Homo sapiens: one gene and its partners. The protein of the gene in region 1 purifies or fractionates together with the protein of each later gene. This does not show direct contact. Each region holds a gene or a part of one and is shown in the gene's direction. Other genes may lie near its edges.

The links. Proteins that work in one complex are often made in the same cells at the same time.
Region 2: the proteins of LRRN2 (region 1) and ST7L purify together in Homo sapiens (affinity purification with mass spectrometry; 2 studies listed by BioGRID and IntAct, with this or other methods). This does not show direct contact.
Region 3: the proteins of LRRN2 (region 1) and LRIG3 purify together in Homo sapiens (co-immunoprecipitation; 3 studies listed by BioGRID and IntAct, with this or other methods). This does not show direct contact.

Annotation. Positions count from the first base shown.
Region 1 is NC_000001.11:204,682,726-204,689,582, reverse strand, and holds the start of LRRN2 (leucine-rich repeat neuronal protein 2 precursor), read left to right. Parts: upstream 1-3,844; 5' UTR 3,845-4,263; intron 4,264-6,585; exon of another isoform or gene 6,586-6,713; intron 6,714-6,857.
Region 2 is NC_000001.11:112,609,134-112,616,160, reverse strand, and holds part of ST7L (suppressor of tumorigenicity 7 protein-like), read left to right. Parts: intron 1-5,157; coding exon 5,158-5,320; intron 5,321-7,027.
Region 3 is NC_000012.12:58,882,497-58,889,523, reverse strand, and holds part of LRIG3 (leucine-rich repeats and immunoglobulin-like domains protein 3 isoform 2 precursor), read left to right. Parts: intron 1-561; coding exon 562-705; intron 706-1,051; coding exon 1,052-1,195; intron 1,196-1,591; coding exon 1,592-1,735; intron 1,736-2,633; coding exon 2,634-2,714; intron 2,715-3,621; coding exon 3,622-3,693; intron 3,694-5,932; coding exon 5,933-6,004; intron 6,005-6,491; coding exon 6,492-6,655; intron 6,656-7,027. UniProt on the Homo sapiens protein: May play a role in craniofacial and inner ear morphogenesis during embryonic development. May act within the otic vesicle epithelium to control formation of the lateral semicircular canal in the inner ear, possibly by restricting the expression of NTN1.

The DNA of each region.
Region 1 (6,857 bases):
GCCTTGGACATTCAGGGTCCCTTTCTCCTGACATTTCTTCATTCCATTTACCAGAAATCCTTACATAAAAATGCTTCCTGTTCGTAAACTGGCTTCCCCTCTTCACCTAGGACACTCTACAGTTCCCAGCTTTCATAGCCCACCCTCTCCCCACCATCCTGCAAGTCGAGAAGCCCTAAAACTTGAGCTTCATTCCCTTCACCTCTGCCTCTGCCTCTGCCTTCACTTGTTCTCTAATAGCCCAGAGAACAAGGCTCTGCACATGGGGAGCCCGGGCAGGGGACGGTCAGAGAGCAATGGGCACCCCCAGGCCAGTCTGTCTCACAGTGAGGTCATCCAACCACCTGAATCAGAATCCCCTGGATGGTTTATCTGAAATGCAGACTCTGAGAACTACAGAATCTGACTCTGGGGTAGGACCTCAGCACCTGCATTGGCCCACACTCTCCAGGTGATTCCAAGGTCCACTGCTCTAGTGCCTTACTCTCTGCCTAGTTGGGTCACTGGTGGGGGACAACAGTCCTCATTGACTCCCCAGACCCCACCCCATATCTCCCAAGGAGGCTGAGCAGAGGCTGCACACAACACACAGTGTCGTGTGTGTGGAGGGTCCACTGAGGGACCCTCAGTGACCCATGCCACATCCCAGGCCTCCCTTCTCTGATTCGGCTCATGTGCCAGGCACCAGTAGGAGCCATCCTCTCCTCACAGCCCCCACCACACAAACAGCATCCCCACCAGTTCCATATCCTGACCCCTATATGAGAGAGCCACCTGGAATTGAGCTAAGGATCATTTCTAGCAGCATGTAATCCCTGCATCCCTCTCCCAAGACACTCTGATGTCACGGAGTTCCAGGCTTCCTGGTGGGAAATAATGCATGGCCAAGCCCAGAAATTAAATTTGGAGGGTGAAAGGTCAATAACAGGGCCATTAAATCCTCTGGGTAATTACCTAAGAGCTTCCAAAGGACTGTGAATTGGGGCAGCTTTTCCCAGGAAAGTATGAGACTCAGAATGGCAGCAATGGGAGCAGGGTTGGGAGAAAAATGTCAACCACATACCATGCACCAGCCACTGTGCTCATGCCAGCCATATAGTCCCTGTAACATCTCACAGCAACCTATAAGTATGAATCCATTCCATTATTGCTATCTTCATCCTAAAGAAGTGCTAGGGAGACTTGGCTTGGTGTTTGGACTCTGTCATTTGAGGACCCTGGATTCCCGTCTTAGCTCTGTTACATACTGGTTAGGTAAACACTGAACCTTGTTTTTCTCCTATCACTAGAGTCCTAGTATTGGTCAAATTTTTGATGAGATGATGCATAAATGTGCTAGCACCTTGCCTTGCATGTAGTAGGTGCTCAATAAATGTTAACTGCTATTACTTGAATTAATATCGTTACTCAGGAAAGAATCAGAGCTGGGGAAGTTCAATACTTTGCCTGAAGCAAGACAGAGTAAATGGACAAGTAGAGTTCCAAATCCAAATCTTTCCAGCTCTAAAAGCTACACTCTTTCTCCAATCTCATTGGGTTCTAAGACATTTGGAGTCAGCTCAAGATAAGCCTTCCCCTATTTTCTTCTCACAGCTGATGAAATTCCCTTATGCCTCATCTAGTACATCTCACAGGCTTTGCCACTCAGGATCAACCACTTAGTGAACGTTACTTGCATTTATCCCATTTATTATTTCAATAATCAGTTATTGGACATCTACTATAAAGGACTGGTCTTATCTTATTAAGGTGTAAGACAGTCATAGGCTCCAGAAGCTTACCCTCTGGTTAGGAGATAAGACACTTGAGTATGCATAGTTATTGGGAAGCTGGGGTGCTGACATGAGTGCTCTCTCCGGTCGTGCAGTTGGTAAAGGACTCCTAAAATGTCCTCCTTTTCACCATCATCCTGTCTACATTGACATTGGCCCTTAGACTGGAAAGGTGGCTCCAGTGACTCGACAAGGGACTCAAATGCTCAGGCTAAAAGCTTGGAGTCAAGTTTTGACCCCTTTCAATCAGTCAGTCTTACAGTTCTGCCAAGTCTTCTTTACAAAGGCCCATGCATTTACTCTATTCTCACTGCTCCCCTCCTCCTAGATTCCTGCAACAGCTACCTCAATAGTCTCCCATCCTCCTGCCTCTTTCATCCCAAATCACCTGAGGATGGGTCCACAGATAAACTGCTGAGCCTGGCAATTCGGGCCCTTCATCAGCTGCTCCCACCCTGTATACTCAATGTGGCATTGTCGCACTGTGAAAATGAGGTCTCACATTCTGCCTACAGATTTTGGGCTACTGCCTTAAACGATCTGGGCCTCCATCCCCCGGTCTGTTAAAAGGGGATATTAGTCAACTCAGAGTCTAAGATGACAGAGATGAGAAAAGGCTGGCATCTAATAGTAGCTCTATAATTTTCCTCCCTTGCCCCCTACCCTCCAGACAACCCATTCTACTCTGCTTGTCTCCACTTTCCTGCCTTTGCTGGTCCCCATATTCTCTTCCAGTTCAAATCCTATCCCTCCAACTAGGCTCAGTTGGAGACTCAGCTCCTCCGTTAAACCTTTTGTGAATAATGCTAGTCCATTAAGGTGGTTTCTTTTTGTATTTCTATGGCACTTCCATCGTCTTGAAATATTAAAATTGGTTTCATATAGTTCCAACCTGTCACTCTGAGCTCCTTGAGGCCATTATGCTCCGTAGCAGGGGTGGAGAGTGGGAACATGGGGGTGGTTTAGTGGGAACTTAATATGTGCTCATTCAATATATGAAGGTGAGAATCCCCTCTGTGCATACAGAACTCAGACCTTCAAGCCAACTTCACAAAAGCCACCAGGCATGGCAGTCACCACTGGCTGTACCCTTGGAAAAGACAGGGCCAGAAGCTCAAGCACTGGATGACGGCAGGCAGCCCAGGGAAGCCACTCCTCACAGGACTCCACACCTTGGCCTCCACCTCATCCATTCCCCTGTTGTTGGTTCTGCAGGCTCTGGTCCAGACCCATCAGTAGGGTGTGGCCTGCCATGGAGCCGAGTTTGTGATGTCTGTTCTGAGTGGTCCAGGCTGAAGTCCCCACCAAGGCATGGGTGTTGGGCATTGGGCCTTTGCCCTCCTCTAGTGGCAGTCACCCAGCTTTTCTAAGCCACCAGGCAGCAGCCTAGCACCCACCTTTGGCACCTTCTTACTTTCCTCCCCCAGTCTTCATGATGTCCAGCTGGCAGAGTGGGGAACCCTGAAGCCAAACCCCTAACTGGGCCTGCCAGTTCCTGACTGAAATTGACCTCCTTCATTGAGAGCCAGGACGGAATCTTCCAGAATGCTAGAGCTGCACGGCTCAGGATGCAATGCTGGAAAAGCATGACAACTAAAGGGGTCTTCCACTCCATTCTTTAGGGTGAGAGGTGCCTGGGCCCAGTGACAAATTCTCACCCACCCCACTACATTCCTTAGTCCACTGTTAACTTCGGGAGGGTAGCACCATGCAAAGCAAAAATGTGATCTTAGGTGCATGCTGTGACTGTGAGCTGCACCTGTCCTCACAAAGCTGCTGAATTCCCCATTCGTCTCCTGGCCTTTGCAAGAGGGTCCGAGGCAGTATGAGAGAAGCCAACCCTTCTCTTCCCGGACCCAAGGGCTGTGCCCCTTCTCTCAGCCAAGCCTTGTGTCTCTAGGCACAAGGACAGCTCAAGCGTTAGCGTCTGGCCCCACCCAACTCCTTCCTCCCGGGTGTGTGTGCGTTAGGTAGAGGGGGCCTCTGGCCACTCAGGAGTTAAAATGGCAGCGGGACTGGAGGGGGTTGGCGTGGCATGCAGACTGGGAGGAGGCGACCGGAGTGGGCTGGGGAGGTTGGGAGAGCGGCGGAGAAGCGAGTGAGGAGGGCGAGCGCGAAGCCGGGAAGAGGGGCGCGCGTGGAGGGGGTGCCGGGCGCCGCGAGGGCCTGCTCCGGGCACCTGCGAACGCGCGGCGCTCTCAAGGAGCGCCTGGCTCTCGCCCGCCAGCCTCCGGCCGCGACGCGCCCAGGGCGCGGAGAGGGGGTGGGGACGGATTGGGATTCTGCCATCGCCCTCACCGGCTGGGCCCTGGAGCCGCTCCCAGGATAACTCCACGTTGGGGAGGGCGCCCGCCGAGCCTCCCCGGCCTGTGCAGACGGCGCGCGCGGCGGGAGGGCGCGGACCAGCGTCCCCAGCCCGGCCCCGGGCGGAAGGCGAGCGGAGCGCGGCCGCGCGGGCAGCAGACGGCAGACGGTGCCCGGCGCCCACGGGGTGAGTGTGCAGCTTCGGGGCTGACCTGGGCAGCGCCGCCGCCGCCGGGGAATCGTGGACACCGAGGTCGCTGGCGTGGCCGAGGCGTACGCGGCGGGAGCGGCCGGAGCAGCCGCCTCAGGGCTCCTGGCTCCTGCCCCGGCACCGCAGCTCCGCCTGACCCGGGTGGGGGCCAGAGGAGGGCCGGCCGCTGCCTTCCGCCGAGACGCCTGCGGGGGAGCCGGAGACTTGGGAGAGGGAGGCGGCCGAGGGGCAGAGGGACGGAGGGCTGGAGAATGCCCAGAAGCGGCCAGGGAGAGGGCGCCTGGGCCTTCGCCTGGAGAGGCCAGAACCTCCCCCAAACTGTTGCTGGGTAGAGTGGGGCCCTGGAGATGTGGAGGAGCCGAGAGGTGGCAGTGAGGTTAGGGAGGGCGTGACACGGGCGGACTGGCAGGCTGGAAGCGCTCCAGAGCCTGGGGACTTTCTCCTCCTTGGAGCTCGCGAGTCTGTGCGGAGGGACAAGGTGGCCTTGGGTCTGTCTGAAGTATCTGGAACCAGGAGCTAGGCTCCTCCCGGGCCGGCTGGCTGGGGTCCGACCGCAGCCTGGGATGGGACCTTTGGGGTGGGGGATGGGCCGGCCTGGGGCTCAGCCTGGGGACTCGGTCAGGGGGAAGCGGAAACGGAAGGGTGGCTCTGAGCCCACCGCAGGACCCAGGAGACAGGATGGGCTGGCCAGCCACAGGTGGGCCGTCTGTCCTGCTGGCAAAGGGTGGCGCAGGCTCTGGCTGCCCAGCCGGCGAGGAGCCGCGGGGTGAGGGAACTGAGCTCCATCTGGGGCCGAGCGGAGAAGCTAAAGAGGTGCAGGAGACCCGGAACCTGGGGAGGGGCCCCGGGGGTAGCACTGTGCTCCCTACCCTTCCTCCCCCACCCAAACGAACAGGAAGGAAAATGTCAGCTGGGCTTTGTGCTCTGTTCCTCAGGCTGCCGCAGCTCCCATCTGTTGGAGCCAACGCAGCTTCTAACTGGGCGACTGGCAGGGTTGGAGGGGGTGGGCTGGGCACAGCGCTCAGTTGCCAGAGATGGACTGACAGGCCCTCTGCTTGAGAACTCCAGGACCTAGGGTGGTGAGGAGAACAGCCTCCCTAGGTCAGGGCAGTAGAGGTGACTCCCTGCCAGTTTGGTCACTGTCATAGGGGAAGATGTAGGTCTCCCCATGCACCCAGGCCGATGGCAGGCTCCGTGCCCCCCTTTCCCGCCAGTCTAGGATGGGCTCTGGCCCAGCGTTTTGTCCCTGAATAAGAAGGCCAGGAGCTCCTCCCATTGCCCACTGCTTCTTAAAGATCCCTTCAAAAAAGAGCACTGGGCATGGAGGGTAGAGGTGGGCTCTGCACTGGGCACTGGAGCCCCCTTGCCTTTGGGCCCTGTGGCTACCAGAAAAAGCCACATGTGGGTGGCCTGACCCACTTTCCTGGCCAGGTGCTGTTGTGGCGAAACGATGGAAACAGAAGGGCAGAGCTAGGGATCTGAGCCTCCTAGGCCTTCTTCCTTCCCCTGTGCTGACTCAGGCTTCTCCTTCTTGCGGAGGGCTCTCTCTGGTCCTGGGATGGGTCCTCATTATTTGCAAAGCATGGAACTAAAGGCCTCAGTGCCTGGGAGATTGAGGTCTGCCCAGGGTCTGGCACCTAGGAACACCCCCAAATCCACACCCTCTCCCTAATGCAGTCTCCTCCCGGGGAAACACCGAGTGGCAGTAAGATCTCAGAGATCTGCTAATTCCATCCAGGCTAGTACAGCAGGTTCCCTCTCTAATTCAACACAGTTCTTCCTCACTTCCCATCCTATTTTCCCTGTGCCTCCCCTCTTCCTCCTCCCCCTCATCCTCCTCTCCTTCCTTCACTCTTCACTTTCCTCCTCTAACACTCTTCACTTCCCTTTTCCCCCTCACACTGCTCTTCCTCTTCTCTCACCCTCCTCATTCTTCCCCAGATATCTCCCTTTCTTCCCAGGCTCTGTCTCCACTTTGCCCTGCTTCTCCTGTAAACTGCAGCTTAAACCGTAAGCCAGGCGTGCACGCACTCCTGCTCATCCTGCCAGTGGGAGCACATGCACTGTTGACTTTGCTGCATCCCTTTTGCAGAGGAGCCTGGGCTGGTGGGCCTGGCAGCTGCATTTGCCTGGCCCTGGTGTCCCTTGAACCCTGTCATTTACTCACCTCCCCCTTCTACTCCCCACACCCTTATGTCGTTTATTTGAAAGGAAAAGGAAACTCCATGGCTTTTAAAAAAATGTATTCATTCAACAACTGTTTCTTGAGTGCCTACTGTGTGCCTCTCATGATTTTAGAAGCTGAAGATACAGCGGTAAACAAACCTCCATGTCTCAAGCTGACCACACTTGTATCTGGACTTGCCAGCTGATTAGCTCTGTTCCCACCAGGCTCGTTCAAAGACCCACAGCTTGAGGGGGCAGAGGTGAGGAACATGAACAATGCTAGTGAATTATCACACTGAGTGACCTCTAACATGCCAGGTACCGCTTAAGTCATCCTGTCCTTAGGATACTTTTCTGACCTGAAAGGATGGACCAGGTCACATCTCACCATTTATCTGGCAGCC
Region 2 (7,027 bases), about 92 Mb from region 1:
CTGGGTAGCCTGGACAGTGCATGCCCCTTCTAAAAGAGGCTAAAGCTAATTGTTGCCATATAGACTTGGAACTAGTATTACCAGGTTTTTCAATTTTTCAAATGATTTAAAGAGAACCCAGACAGGCCGGACGTGGTGGCTAACACCTATAATCCCAGCACTTTGGGAGCCTGAAGCAGGCAGATCACTTGAGGCCAGGAGTTCAAGAACAGCCTGGCCAACATGATGAAACTCCGTCTACTAAAATACAAAAAATAACTGGGTATGGTGGTATGTGCCTGTAGTCCCAGCTACTCGGAAGGCTGAGGCATAAGAATCTCTTGAACTTGGGAGGTGGAGGTTACAGTGAACCAAGATCTTGCCACTGCACTCCAGCCTGGGCGACAGAGAGAAACCCTTTCTCAAAAATGAATGAATAAATAAGTAGAACCTGGACATACAGTTTTTATATAAAATTTGCCCATTAAAAAAAAATTGAGATGGAGTCTCACTACGTTGCCCAGGCCAGAGTACAGTCGATATTCACAGGCACCATTATAGCACACTGTGGCCTTAACTCCTGGGCTCAAGCCATCCTCCCGTCTCAGCCTCCCTAGTAGCTGGGATTACAGGCATGTGCCACCATGTCTGACTACAGCATTTTAATATTGGCAACATTGGGAAGACTAAAATTTATGTGTCATGAATTCAACTTACAGTTTTTTCAAGCCCCAGTTTCCTCATCTGTTAACTGGCAGTTAATAGCATGAACTTTATAGGATTATGAAGAGTAAATCAGATAATGTTGTAAGTTTATAACATGATAGCTGGTTCAGAATGTACACTTAATGAATTTTGGCCATTATTCTGAGAATTCTCACAATTAAGAAACCTGTTTGGCCTGATACAGTGGTTCATACCTGTAATCCTAGCACTTTGGGAGACCGAGGTGGGGTGATAGAGTTCGAGACCAGCCTGGGAAACATGGAAAAACCCTGTCTCTTCAAAAAAATACAAAAATTAGGCGTGTGTGGCGCACCTATAGTCCCAGCTACTGGAGAGGCCAAGGTGGGAGGATCACTTGAACCCTGGAGGGAGAGGTTACAGTGAGCCAAGATGGTGCCACTGCACTCTAACCTGAGTGACAGAGCAAGACTCTGTTTCAAAAAACAAAAACAACAAAACTGTTTAACTTTAATTCAACTTTTCCTTGAAGAAGATATTTTTAATTTAAAAAAAATAAAATATTTTTTATAATTCACGTTAACATCCCTAGGATGTCATGTTTACTAGTGTACACTTTGGAACAATACTGCTGCAGATAAAAATCTTAAGAAGTTTTATGCCATGCATAGCCAATAAATTTTTCTCTTCCCTTTAAATTTTTATTTATTTTTTGTAGAGACAGAGTCTCACTGTGTTGTTCAGGGTAGTCTCAGACGCTTGGGCATAAACGATCCATTCTCCTCGGCCTCCCAAAGTGCTAAGGTTCCAGGCGTGAACCACCATGCCCAGCCTGTTCTTTTTTTTATCTCTAGGTGGTGCTCTCCAGCTGTAGTAGAAATAGCATTTGTATTGGATCTATTTTTTTAAATAGGGACTAAATACAGACCATTTTGTTAAAGTGAAATGCCAAACAAGAACGAGATTTTTCTCTTGGCTAAAAAAAATAGAAGCTATTGAGGAATTCAGGATTAAAACTACATGTTAATATAAGCCTCATAATTTAACATAAGCATATTTTAGCATGTTTAGTCCATAGCATACAAAAGTCTAAGTAAAGACGATAAACTGTCTTTAAGCCAGGCACGGTGGCTTACACCTGTAATCCCAACACTTTGGGAGGATGGAGTGGGAGAATCCCTTAATGCCAGAAGTTTGAGACCAGCCTGGGCAACAACAAGACCCTGTCTCTATTTAATATGGTTTTTGTTTGTTTGTTTTAAAGAAACTATCAATATTAAGCAGCTGATATAGTGGAAAAAGCTCTGGTTTGGGAACCAGAAGATAAAATTTTGAATCTTAACTCTGCCACTTACTAGCTGATAATTTTGGGCAAGCTACATAAACTGTCTAAGCTATAATTTCCTCATTTATAAGAGGGGGATAACTTATATATATGATGTCTAAAACCTTGTAAAAAACTTTTTGTGGCCAGGTGTGGTGTCTCGTGTCTGTACTGCCAACACTGTGGGAGGCTGAGGCAGGAGGATTGCTTGTGGCCAGGAGTTCAAGAGCAGCCTGGACAAATGAACAAGATCTGGTCTCTGTATAAAATTTTAAAAATTTAGCGCGTTGTGGTGGCGCATTCCTGTAGTCCCAGCTACTTCAGAGACTGAGGTGGGAGGATTGCTTGAGCCCAGGAAATCGTGGCTGTGGTGAGCTGTGATCATGCTACTGCACTCCAGCCCGGGCAACAGAGTGGACCTTGTCTCAACAACAAAACAACAACAACAAAAACCCAAAAAAACCTTTTGTTACTCTTTATAAAACCGCATTTTAAATATACACAAATTAGGAAATTCAAGTAACATTTTAAAGGTTAAACTGTATTATTACCCTTGCAATGTTGATGGGTTTTTATTAGCAAAGGTTGTTGTGTTTATAATTTCTTTTACCACCTGGATTTAACAAACTTGTATATACATATAATCACATATACATGTATAAAGAGATATATTTATGAATCAGTCTGGTGTAATGGTTGGAAGCTCCGAAGTCAGGCAAACCTGAATAAGAATCCCAGCTCTGCCAGTTACCAGTGATGTGAACTGTTATTTAAATTTGGAATGTGTGTCCTCATCTCTAAAATCAGTTGTTATAAAAATTAAATGACATAATGCATGTCAAGGATTGGCATAATGTGTGGCTCATAGAAAGCTTTTGATAAGTATTTGCAGTTATTATTACCATTGTTCATTTGTGTTAAAAAGTTGACTCAAAAGTTGAAAAAAGCCCCTAACTTCATACTCATTCATTAGAAAACCCACCTGCACTTTGTATGGTGAAGGGAAGTGTGTTGTTGTTGCCCTTGATGGTACTTATCTTCTCTTTTTTTTTTTCGAAACAGTGTTTTACTCTGTCACCCAGGCTGGAGTGAAGTGGTACAATCACAGCTCACAGCAGCCTTGACCTGCTGAACTCAAGCAATCCTCCCACCTCAGCCTCCAAAGTAGCTGGGACTACAGGCACACACCCTCACACCTGGCTCATTTTTTTTATGTTTTGTAGAGATGGGGTCTCACTATGTTGTCCAGGTTAATCTCAAATTCCCAGCCTCAAGTGATCCTCCCACCTCAGCCTCCCAAAGTGTTGGGATTATAGGCATGAGCCACCGTGCCTGGCCCTATCCAATTTTCTTAGCCAAGATTTATTCAATATAAACCTTTTCTGTCACATGAACAGTTTCTGCTTGTGTAAAGAAGTTTTATCTCACTTCTTAGTAAAATATATGGTAGAAGTCAAACCATGGCCTCATTTGGTGGTAATTCTTGCTAACTTAAGAGTGAGCAGAAAGAGATACCATTTTAGACTGAGCATAAAACATTAGTGACATGATAGAAAAAATGCTGCACCATGATTTTCTCACACTTTCCTATAAACGTTGTGGCATGTAGTCAGCGGGCCCCAACATGACTATACTTTTGGCACCTATGTAGCATATTTGTTCTGTTATTTACTGAAGCAAAAAAATAACATTCCTACAGATTTGAAAATGCTGATTTTTTTGTGATGGGTTCTGTTTGTGGTCATAGTAAAATAGTTTTCAAAAATATTATAATCTGGCCGGTCATGGTAGCTTACACCCATAATCCTAGCACTTTGTGAGGCCAAGGAGGGCAGAGCGCTTAAGCCCAGGAATTTGAGACCAGCCTGGGCAACATGGCAAAACCTTGTCCCTACAAAAAACATAAAAATTAGCTGGGCATGGTGGCACATGCCTGTAGTCCTAGCTACACGGGAGGCTGAGGTGGGATGATCACCTGAGCCCAGGGAGGTCAAGGTTTCAGTGAGCTGTGATCATGCCACTGTACTCCAGCCTGGTGACAGTGGGATCCTATCTCAAAACATTTTAAAAAAAGGAAATAAAAAGATTAAAATCTCTTAGTTGTGCATATGCTTTGTTTATTCTTTAAAGTAATACATGTATCCACTACATTTGGCAGAAGACTAGTCTGTCAGGTGACTTTTTTTTTTTTTTTTTTTTTTTTTGAGACAGGGTCTCACTCTATTGCCCAGGCTGGAGGGCAGTGGTGCAATCTCAGCTCACTGCAGCCTTGACCTCCTTGGGCTCAAGAGATCCTCCCACTTCAACTTCCTGAGTAGCTGGAACTGCAGGCATGCACCACCTCACCCAGCTAATATTTTATTTTTATATTTTTCTGTAGAGATGAGGTCTCACTGTTTTGTCCAGGCTGGTCTAGAATTCTTGGGCTCAAGCGATTCTTCTTGAGGATCCCTCTTTTGGGACTTCTTGGCCTCCCAAAGTGCTGGAATTACAGACGTGAACCACCGTGTCTGGCCTGGTTTCTCTTTTTATATCAGTGATAAACCATGGAAATAGAAAGAAATGAATATCCTGATTTTTAAATGGTTCAATATGGGAATCAACTTGACCTTAACCTTTATTAATAATTTTGCCAAATACCAGAGTAGTACTTTTTGCTTCAGAAAGCACTTTCTTATAATTCTTGTTAACCACATTTAGCTGAGGCTCTGAGATATTAAGAGATTAAGTGACTTGCCCACAGCACACAGCTAATAAATGACTGATTTGGGAGTTAAAACATGGGCATGCTGATGCTAGTCTAGTCTGTTCATCCACTATGCTTATTATTTGAAAACTGTTTATGCTGCAGATAGAATAAAATGACAATGTAACTTAACAGAGTTAAATTACTTATAGATTAAAATGCTTCTTTCTGTTTTTAATGCTTTATTACATATGCCTAGTTTTGCTTAAGCTTGTCTAAATTTTATGACGGAACTATAAAAAATGTATTTCACTTTTACGTGACATGTTATTGGTGAATCTTGTGTTTGTATGTTTTTTTCTTTTTGAAAGGAGAGTGCATTTAAAATGCTGAATTGAACAGGACATCTTGAGAGAATGTTTTAATTTGAGCTCATGTATCTGCTGATCGATTCTAAGTGCAGGATATTTTCTGTTTGTCATAGATATTTGAATGGTGGTACTTCCATAAGCATGGCACATCTTTTATTGAGCAAGTATCTGTAAGCCATTTGCAACCACTGATGGGAGGAACAGAGAGCAGCATTTCAGAACCAGGTTCTCCTTCGAGGAACAGAGAAAATGAAACCAGCAGACAGAATTTGTCAGGTGACTACTTTTCTAATGTGTTTTCAGAGCTGTGTATTTAAGATTGAGTTTGGCTCTGGGAGATAGAAAACTCAAAACAGCAGAGTGCTGTGGTGTGCATGTTTGTGTTTCCCCCAAAATTCTAATCACCAATGTGATGTTACGAGGTAGGGTCTTTGGGAGGTGATCAGGTCATGAGGGCAGTGCCCTCAGGGATGTGATGAATGCCCTTATGAGAGACCCCAGAGAGCTGCTTGCCACTTCTACCGTGGGAGGACACCACGAGAAGGCGCCGTCTGTGAACCAGAAAGCAGACCCTCACCAGACACCAAATTTGTTGGTACCTTGGTCATAGACTTCCCAGCCTCCAGAACTGTTAAAAATAAATTTATACTGTTTATAATCTACGCAGTTTGTGATATTTTGTTATAGCAGTCCAAATGGACCAAGACACAGAAATTTGTCTTTCATGTTAATATAGTTAGTCCATGGCTAGTATGGAAAACAATAATCATCAGATACCCAGACCCCTTCTATTTTGTTAGCCTGCCATCTCCAAATGTAGTTTTTACTTTGTCGTGTAAGACTGTTGCTCTTGCTTCAGCCATCATATCCACATTCCAATCAGTAGGAAGGAAAGAAATCCGGGGTAAGGTCACTACTTCCCTCTACTCCACCCCACAGAAGCCAAGGACTATTCTCAGAAATGTTACATACTATTTCACCTTACTTCCTACTGGTCAGGTCTGTTTCATATGGCCATTACTAGCTATAAGGAAGGCTAGAAATTTTCATCATTTTCTCAGTGTATATATATATATACGCCCAGCAAATCAGGGAATCTTATGACTAATAAAGGAGAGAACAGAAACAGCCATCTCTGCCAAGAGAGAAAAGTAGGAAAAAAAATTTTTTTCAGTATACTTAAAAAGGCATCAAAGTCTCAGCTCTTCATGGATGGATATTCCATTGTCATACTTTTATTGTAGACTGTTCCTCTATTTGTGTCGAGTAATCGCAAATTTATTTATTTATTTAGTTAGAGACAGAATCTTGTCTGTTGCCAGGCTGGAGTGCAGTGGTGCGATCTCGGCTCACTGCAACCTCTCCTTCCAAGTTCAAATGATTCTCCTGCCTCAGCCTCCCGAGTAGCTGGGACTACAGGCATGCACCACCATGCCTGGCTAATATTTTGTATTTTTAGTAGAGATGGGGTTTCACCATATTGGCCAGGATGGTCTCAATCTCTTGACCTCATGATCTGCCCACCTTGGCCTCCTAAAGTTCTGGGATTACAGGCGTGAGCCACCATACCCAGCATTTTTTTTTTTTTTTGAGACGAAGTCTCTGTAGCCCAGGCTAGAGTGCAGTGGTGCAATCTCAGCTCACTGCGACCTCTGCCTCCTGGGTTCAAGTGATTCTCCTTCCTCAGCCTCCCAAGTAGCTGAAATAACAGGCATGTACCACTGCACCCAGCTAATTTTTGTATTTTTAGTAGAGATGGGTTTCACCATGTTGGCCAGGCTGGTCTTGAACTCCCGACCTCAGGTGATCTGTCTGCCTCGGCTTCCCAAAGTGCTAGGATTACAGGCGTGAGCCACTGAGCCTGGCCAGCTAGAAAGCAAATATTTTTAATGATACATAATTAGGAAAGGAAAATTTACAAAGCCAAATACAATTATTATTATTATTATTTTAATAGAGATGAGGTCTCAGTATGTTGCCCAG
Region 3 (7,027 bases), on another chromosome or scaffold:
ACTGCCCAGGCCACACCTTAGACCAATTATATTAGGACCTCTAAGGGTAAGATCCAGGCTTCAGAAATTTTTAAAACTCCCAGGTTGCGTCCAGTGTGCAACCAAGGCTGAGAACTACTGCCTTAAAGAGAAAGCATTAAACCTAAAAAGAAGGGTGAAAGATAGTAACCAACTTGTAAACAGATTGTACAGGATAAACTTGAGGCCCAGCTCCTTGATAGACCTCATGTTTTAGTGTAACATTTAATAATCTCATTCTGGATTGTTTAAAAACAAATCTTAATTTGTTTGTGTCTATACTGAGTGGACAAGACTTTAGAAATTAAAGTGCAGTCTAGTTTCAGTATTTTATTATTCCAAAAACACATGACACATTTCAGTAGGAAATTCACTGCCTGCTTAACAAATTGAAATTCTTTGCAATAAAAATGTTTAGAAACTGAAAACACTGTATGTAATTGAACACTGACTGGTTGAACTATATTGTAGTAATGACACATTTTATTACTACCTCCAGAATTTAATTGTCATATAAGCTAACTCTTGTAATACTCAATGCAGCGAATTGAACCGAAACAAGATTAAAAATGTAGATGGACTGACATTCCAAGGCCTTGGTGCTCTGAAGTCTCTGAAAATGCAAAGAAATGGAGTAACGAAACTTATGGATGGAGCTTTTTGGGGGCTGAGCAACATGGAAATTTTGTAAGTGTGGGTTATCACAGTTCCTACTGAGGTAGTATGATCATAGAATGCTCAGTGTACATTCAGCAGGTCTTATGTGAAATCCTATGTTAAAATCTCATCATCCACAATCTTATTTATAAGTCAGTATTCAGTTTTGATTCAGGTAATGTGATCGATAATTTATAAGTACCTAAATTTAGTATAGTATAAACTATATAGTATTTTTTTGCTGACGTCTTCATATAACAAAAGCTAAACATCTAATAACAATAGGAATCTGTAATAGGTTGTAATCATATGTCCCCTTTGAAGAGACTAGATAATGAAGTTTTGATCCTGCTTTTGATTCTTACTGTAAATGTAGGCAGCTGGACCATAACAACCTAACAGAGATTACCAAAGGCTGGCTTTACGGCTTGCTGATGCTGCAGGAACTTCATCTCAGCCAAAATGCCATCAACAGGATCAGCCCTGATGCCTGGGAGTTCTGCCAGAAGCTCAGTGAGCTGTGAGTTGCCTTTTATTTATTCTCCTCAGGTTTGAGAGCAGGGATCATGCCAGGGCATGAGCTTCTTACCACTGATCTGTGAAATTTTCATAACAAAGTTTCCAAGGTGACAGCTTTTTTCACATGCAACCTAGTCTTATTTTTGTTGTGATAAGTTGAAGCCAGTTCTACTGTTGCAGTTCTATGTCACGTTGGCAAAAGCAATGATGGTTATTTTCAAGTAAAGAGAACGTATTTTTTTAATTACTGATATTAGAAATATTTACTTGGATATTATTAAGGCAGAATTTAAAAATAAGGATTAGTGTAGCTCATACAGTACCTGTCTTTTGGAAAACAAATCATTGTGTTGAATTGAAAAATAAAAGCTATTGCTTTTCTCTTTTTTCTTTACAGGGACCTAACTTTCAATCACTTATCAAGGTTAGATGATTCAAGCTTCCTTGGCCTAAGCTTACTAAATACACTGCACATTGGGAACAACAGAGTCAGCTACATTGCTGATTGTGCCTTCCGGGGGCTTTCCAGTTTAAAGACTTTGTAAGTTACACGTTTTGCTGTCAGTACTCGAACGTAATTGGTTCCTAAATATGCCCACTTTTCTCCTAGCAGATTTCCTTTGTTGTCAAGGAAATGCATACAGCCTCAGAAGTAGTATCTTAATCTTTCCCAGATCAGTTTGATTACAATGGATCCATTTCATCCATATGTGTTTCGTATAGGGATTAAAAAGGACAGTGATCAGTTTGTTTTGGTGATTACAGTGAACCTTCTCAGGATCTCCAGGAAATTGGTAACTGCTTAAGAGGGAAACAATTTTAAGTCCACTAAGTTTTTCTTTGTAAAATACAGATTAAAAATTACTTAGAGCAAAAAGGTCTACAAAGGGCAAGGAAGATACTGTTTATCATGCCAGTTATATCCTCAACCTGATCTCTGTCCTAAGAGAAAGAAAAGGGAGTTAAATTAATTGACCTTTGAAAAATTTCTCAAATGGTAATTTAAGGTTGTGCAATGGGCTTTTGATTTTTGCTCTGTCAGAAACTTTTGCTCTGTTCGCTATTTGAAGCATTACGTAATTGAAAGACATACTGTATGCTTTGGCGAACTTCTGCATGCGTGGTTGGAAGAGTGGTTTTAAAGTTTAATGTATTTTTCAGACTGTTCGGATCATTCAGAATGTAGTCATTTTGATAGAGGAATTAATAGGGCCAGTGTCAGCTTTTTCGGATTTTAGGGAAAAACTTAAAATGTTGTTGAGGGAATCAGGCAGGGTGTAAGAGGTAAGTTGGAGAAAAAGAGTTTTCTATTATTTTGAGAGAGGTGGAGATAATGTGGGGAATTATGAGAAATTTTTTACAAATGATATGCCACCTGGGTGGTGATACTAGGCTTTCTGAGCTTATCACTCTAAAGGGAATGCTTCTTTTAAAATTAGGGATCTGAAGAACAATGAAATTTCCTGGACTATTGAAGACATGAATGGTGCTTTCTCTGGGCTTGACAAACTGAGGCGACTGTGAGTATGAATTGCCTCATAATTTAGCTCACTCTTTGATTTAAAAATTTTGTCTTCACTGAAGTCAGCTATACAAGTTGACATCATGAAGAGATGAGAAATCAGTGCTTAATCTGGTTACCACCCTTGATCCTCTCCCCAAATGCCTGCTGTTGCGCAAGATGTATATTATTAACTTTTTCTTCCTTAGGTGAAAGTGTTTTATTCAACATTTTAGTATGTGTAATTTACTTTAATATCCTCATAATAATTTTCATCTATGTTGAGGGCTTACACTTTTGGAATTATCATTGCGTAAAAGTTAGTGCAGGCACTTCCACATCTTGAAATCCTCAATGTTGTACTGTCCCCGTAGGAATTTTTTTAATGAAGTAATCTAGTAGCCACTGATAATGCTGTGGTAGGTTACAAGCAAAACAGGATGAAAACATCTTATAATTAACCATAAAATGGTCTTGCAGATGGTCAAATTACATGTGTTAAGCCAGCAGTATTCAAATTCAGCTCCCTATAGTCCCAAACTCCTATGGATGGAAGGTATCCACAGAGAAGGAGAGGAAGGAGAAAACGTTCACTATTATCTGCTTTGTTAGTGTTCTGAGACAGTTTACTTGAAATAAAGTCTCTACCTATTCCTAAAAGGACTCTGAAAAACAGTGATTTAACTTAATCAGCAGAGTGACTTACTGAATACCTATTTTTGTTGGGCTCTTTGTTGAATGCTTCAAAAACCATGTTCGACTACATTATTGAAATAGATGGCATGGACACATTTTTACAGGATATATTGTTTAATTGAAGAAAATGGAATTGCTCACACATAATTTAAAAAGCAGTTCTGTTTATGAGAGTTCCACCCCAAAATGGCTTTTTAAATTAAGTGCTCCAATGTAATTTTTTTCCCCAGGATACTCCAAGGAAATCGGATCCGTTCTATTACTAAAAAAGCCTTCACTGGTTTGGATGCATTGGAGCATCTGTGAGTAGCTAGAATTTAGTTACCCTAAAAGAGAATCTCTAAGATGGTTTTTACTTATGTGTCATGAAAGATAAAACAAACTGGAATGTAATTTTGTTGGCATCCTTCCGGTTCCATAAAATATATTTAAACATCTCCCTATCTTTCTATTTCTTTCTCTGTCTACCTACTTACCTACCTACCTATATAGAAGTATACAGGTGTATGCTTTCCTTTGTATTTAAGAACAAAAGCTATATCTCCTTAATGGGTTTTTAATTGTTTTTCTCAAACAGTGATTATTTAATTAAAAAAAAAACAAACTACTAGGTGTAGTTCATCCACTATATATCAGGCATTGTACCACATATTCACATATATTCTCATTTAATTCTTAGTCAGAATACAATTCAATAGCTATTATTATCTTTATTGTTAAGCGGAGGTTCTAAGAGTTTATTGATTCCACTGGACAGTTAAAGGAGATGACTTGGCTTTTAAAGAACAAAGACAATGTTCCACAATCCTTAAGAGTGACATAGGAGAGTTTTAGCACTACTTTGAGAATTGTTGGTCTCTTATTGTTGTTTAATTATGAAACATACAACCCCCCCTTACCATTGTTCTCTTTTTTGTTGTTTTCTTTTGTTTCGTCTTGACCCACCAGTTAGTAGCTGTCAGAAGCAGGACGCAACCCAGAGCTGCCCCGACTTGCACAGTGTCCCTGCATCACACTAGCTCTTGCCTGTACAATCTCTGCCGCTACTCCCAGTAGCTCCTAGTAACTCCTGGCACACATTTCTGAAATGTCATTTAGGGGCTCAGGAATTTTCAGCCACTAAGAGAGGAAAGCTAGCTAACATTGATAGGAATCAAAACTTGCATGTTTTAACTAAGGGAACCAACCAGCTGCTTATAACCATGGATGTATGTTTTACGCTTGTACAGTAAAAGTACAAAGTAATGTATAATATCGACTCTGACTGTTAAGGAATGCTTGTATCCAGAAGTTTTAATATGTATTAACCAGGACAAAAGAAGTTACAATTTAAAATACATATTGGGTTCTCCTATGTGTGCTGTGTATTGAGAGTGAAGATTTAGCTGTTATCTGTAAACCACTGTGTTGTCACCTTCTGACTGCACCAGTTCCTCTGAGGGAGACTTGGATCGTGAGCCACCCAGACAGTGAGTGCGGCAGTTCAAATTATAGTAGAATGATTCTGCAAAGCTGAGTTTTGGAAGGGCAGACCAACATTGCAGTATTTATTGAAACCGATTATTTTGAAAAGAAAACTAGCCAAAAGGGTTTGTCATTTGGCCCATTCCGTTTCTGGGAACGTGGAATTAGTGGATCAGTGGAGTATTAATCTCTGCTTCAGTTTTCTTAAATCTTCCTTGATTGCCCCAGCCTCTTCGTCTAGCCATGTCTGGTCCCTTCTTTCTTTGTCTTCTCTTCCCACTTGTCTCACTCAATATTCCCTTTGTATACTGTGACCCCTGTAAAGAAAAACAGAGTGGTAATCATTGTGGTGAATACTTTAATGCAGAGTGCTTATAAGTCTCTGTATAAAGAGAATTAATCCAGAATATGTGCTCATTTTATGAATTTCCTGCCTGAAGTATTGGTTTTAACAAGTATATCTTGTCTGAACATCTTACTGCGTTTATGTTAGTGAGCTGTGGGTGACAGAATTAGGTTAATGGTTAAAAGCACAGGTTTTGGAATTGAAAATAATTGTTTCAACCCTTACCTTCCCCTTTCGTGCTGAGCTAAGTAGTAATACCATCATATTTTGGGTTGTTGTAGGAATAAATGCAGTAACACTTGTAAATCACTTAACTGAGTGCATATCTTCAAAAATACTGTGTAAATGTTTTATAAAAGCATAATTATTTTTATTTTTTATTTGTATATTTTATTTGTATATTTAGAAGTTTCCAATAGTTGCTAATTTGAATAAAGAGTAATAGAATGAAATAATAGAACAGCATGGGCCCTAATGAGTCAAATAATCTTTAAGTGATGACAGAAAGTGAATCTTTTTCACTAAAACAAAACCTATCTGTGATACAAATGCCCTGGGTCTTCAGCACAAGCTTTGCAGTGGATTCTTCTGGGGCTGCCCCAGTCATGTATTTGACACATAGAGGGAGTATTTGTTTGGCAAATGGGGTGGGCAGTGGGGGCCCAAACTTTGTCCAAAAGCACGAAATGATGGTAGTTTGCTCTGATGCATTTGATTTGGTGATTTTTCAGAGACCTGAGTGACAACGCAATCATGTCTTTACAAGGCAATGCATTTTCACAAATGAAGAAACTGCAACAATTGTAAGCTTTTCTTTTCCTTCTAGGAGTCTGAAAGTATAGAGGGGAAAACTGTCATATGGTGTGGCATCCTGGATTATGTATCTATAAAAAGTGCCTGGCACATTCTTAACATTACTTAATTTTTATACTAGGCAACAGAAAAGGAGTTTATTTGTTCTTTTTGTTGAAATGAGTTTTTCTTTCTATTTTAAATTCGCAACTTTGTGGGACCAAATATAGTACAGTCACCCAATATAGTAGTAATTTTTTCAGTTGTAAGGAACTTTTGATAAATCAACACTTCTGTCTCAGTAGGACAGTAAGAACAACAGAAAATCATGCTAGATACATTTCTTGTATTTTAAAATGGACTGTGGGATACTTATTCCATGGGATGTGTGTATTCAGTTTCCAAATTCATTGCTTTGTTAATATTTACTTGGGTTTAGTTTACTTGTAGAAATCTGCATTTCATACAGAACAAATTGAATGTAATTACTCTCCTCAGGCATTTAAATACATCAAGCCTTTTGTGCGATTGCCAGCTAAAATGGCTCCCACAGTGGGTGGCGGAAAACAACTTTCAGAGCTTTGTAAATGCCAGTTGTGCCCATCCTCAGCTGCTAAAAGGAAGAAGCATTTTTGCTGTTAGCCCAGATGGCTTTGTGTGTGGTGAGTATAAGTATTGCCCTTGCCTTTTATTTATTCTTCTTTTTTCCCCCTCCCATTTATCCAAATAATGGTTTTGAATAGATTTATGATCTCTTTATAAAGCTTTTATTTCTGCTGAGGTAGAGGAAAATGGGTCTATAGTTTGCTGATTATTTTAATTTCACAGATGGGAAAGAGAGTTTTCTAAAATTGCTTCATCTTTGTTTTGGCATCAGGATGGTGCGGTGGAATGAGAATGAAATTGGATCTTGGGAGAATGGAAGGGTAATCTCAGCCCTTCTACTTAACTTAAATTCCCTAAATATTAGTCTCTGCATCCATGAAATGGGGACTCTCCTTTCTTCTCTTCCCAACTCTGAGGCTTGTTGGGAG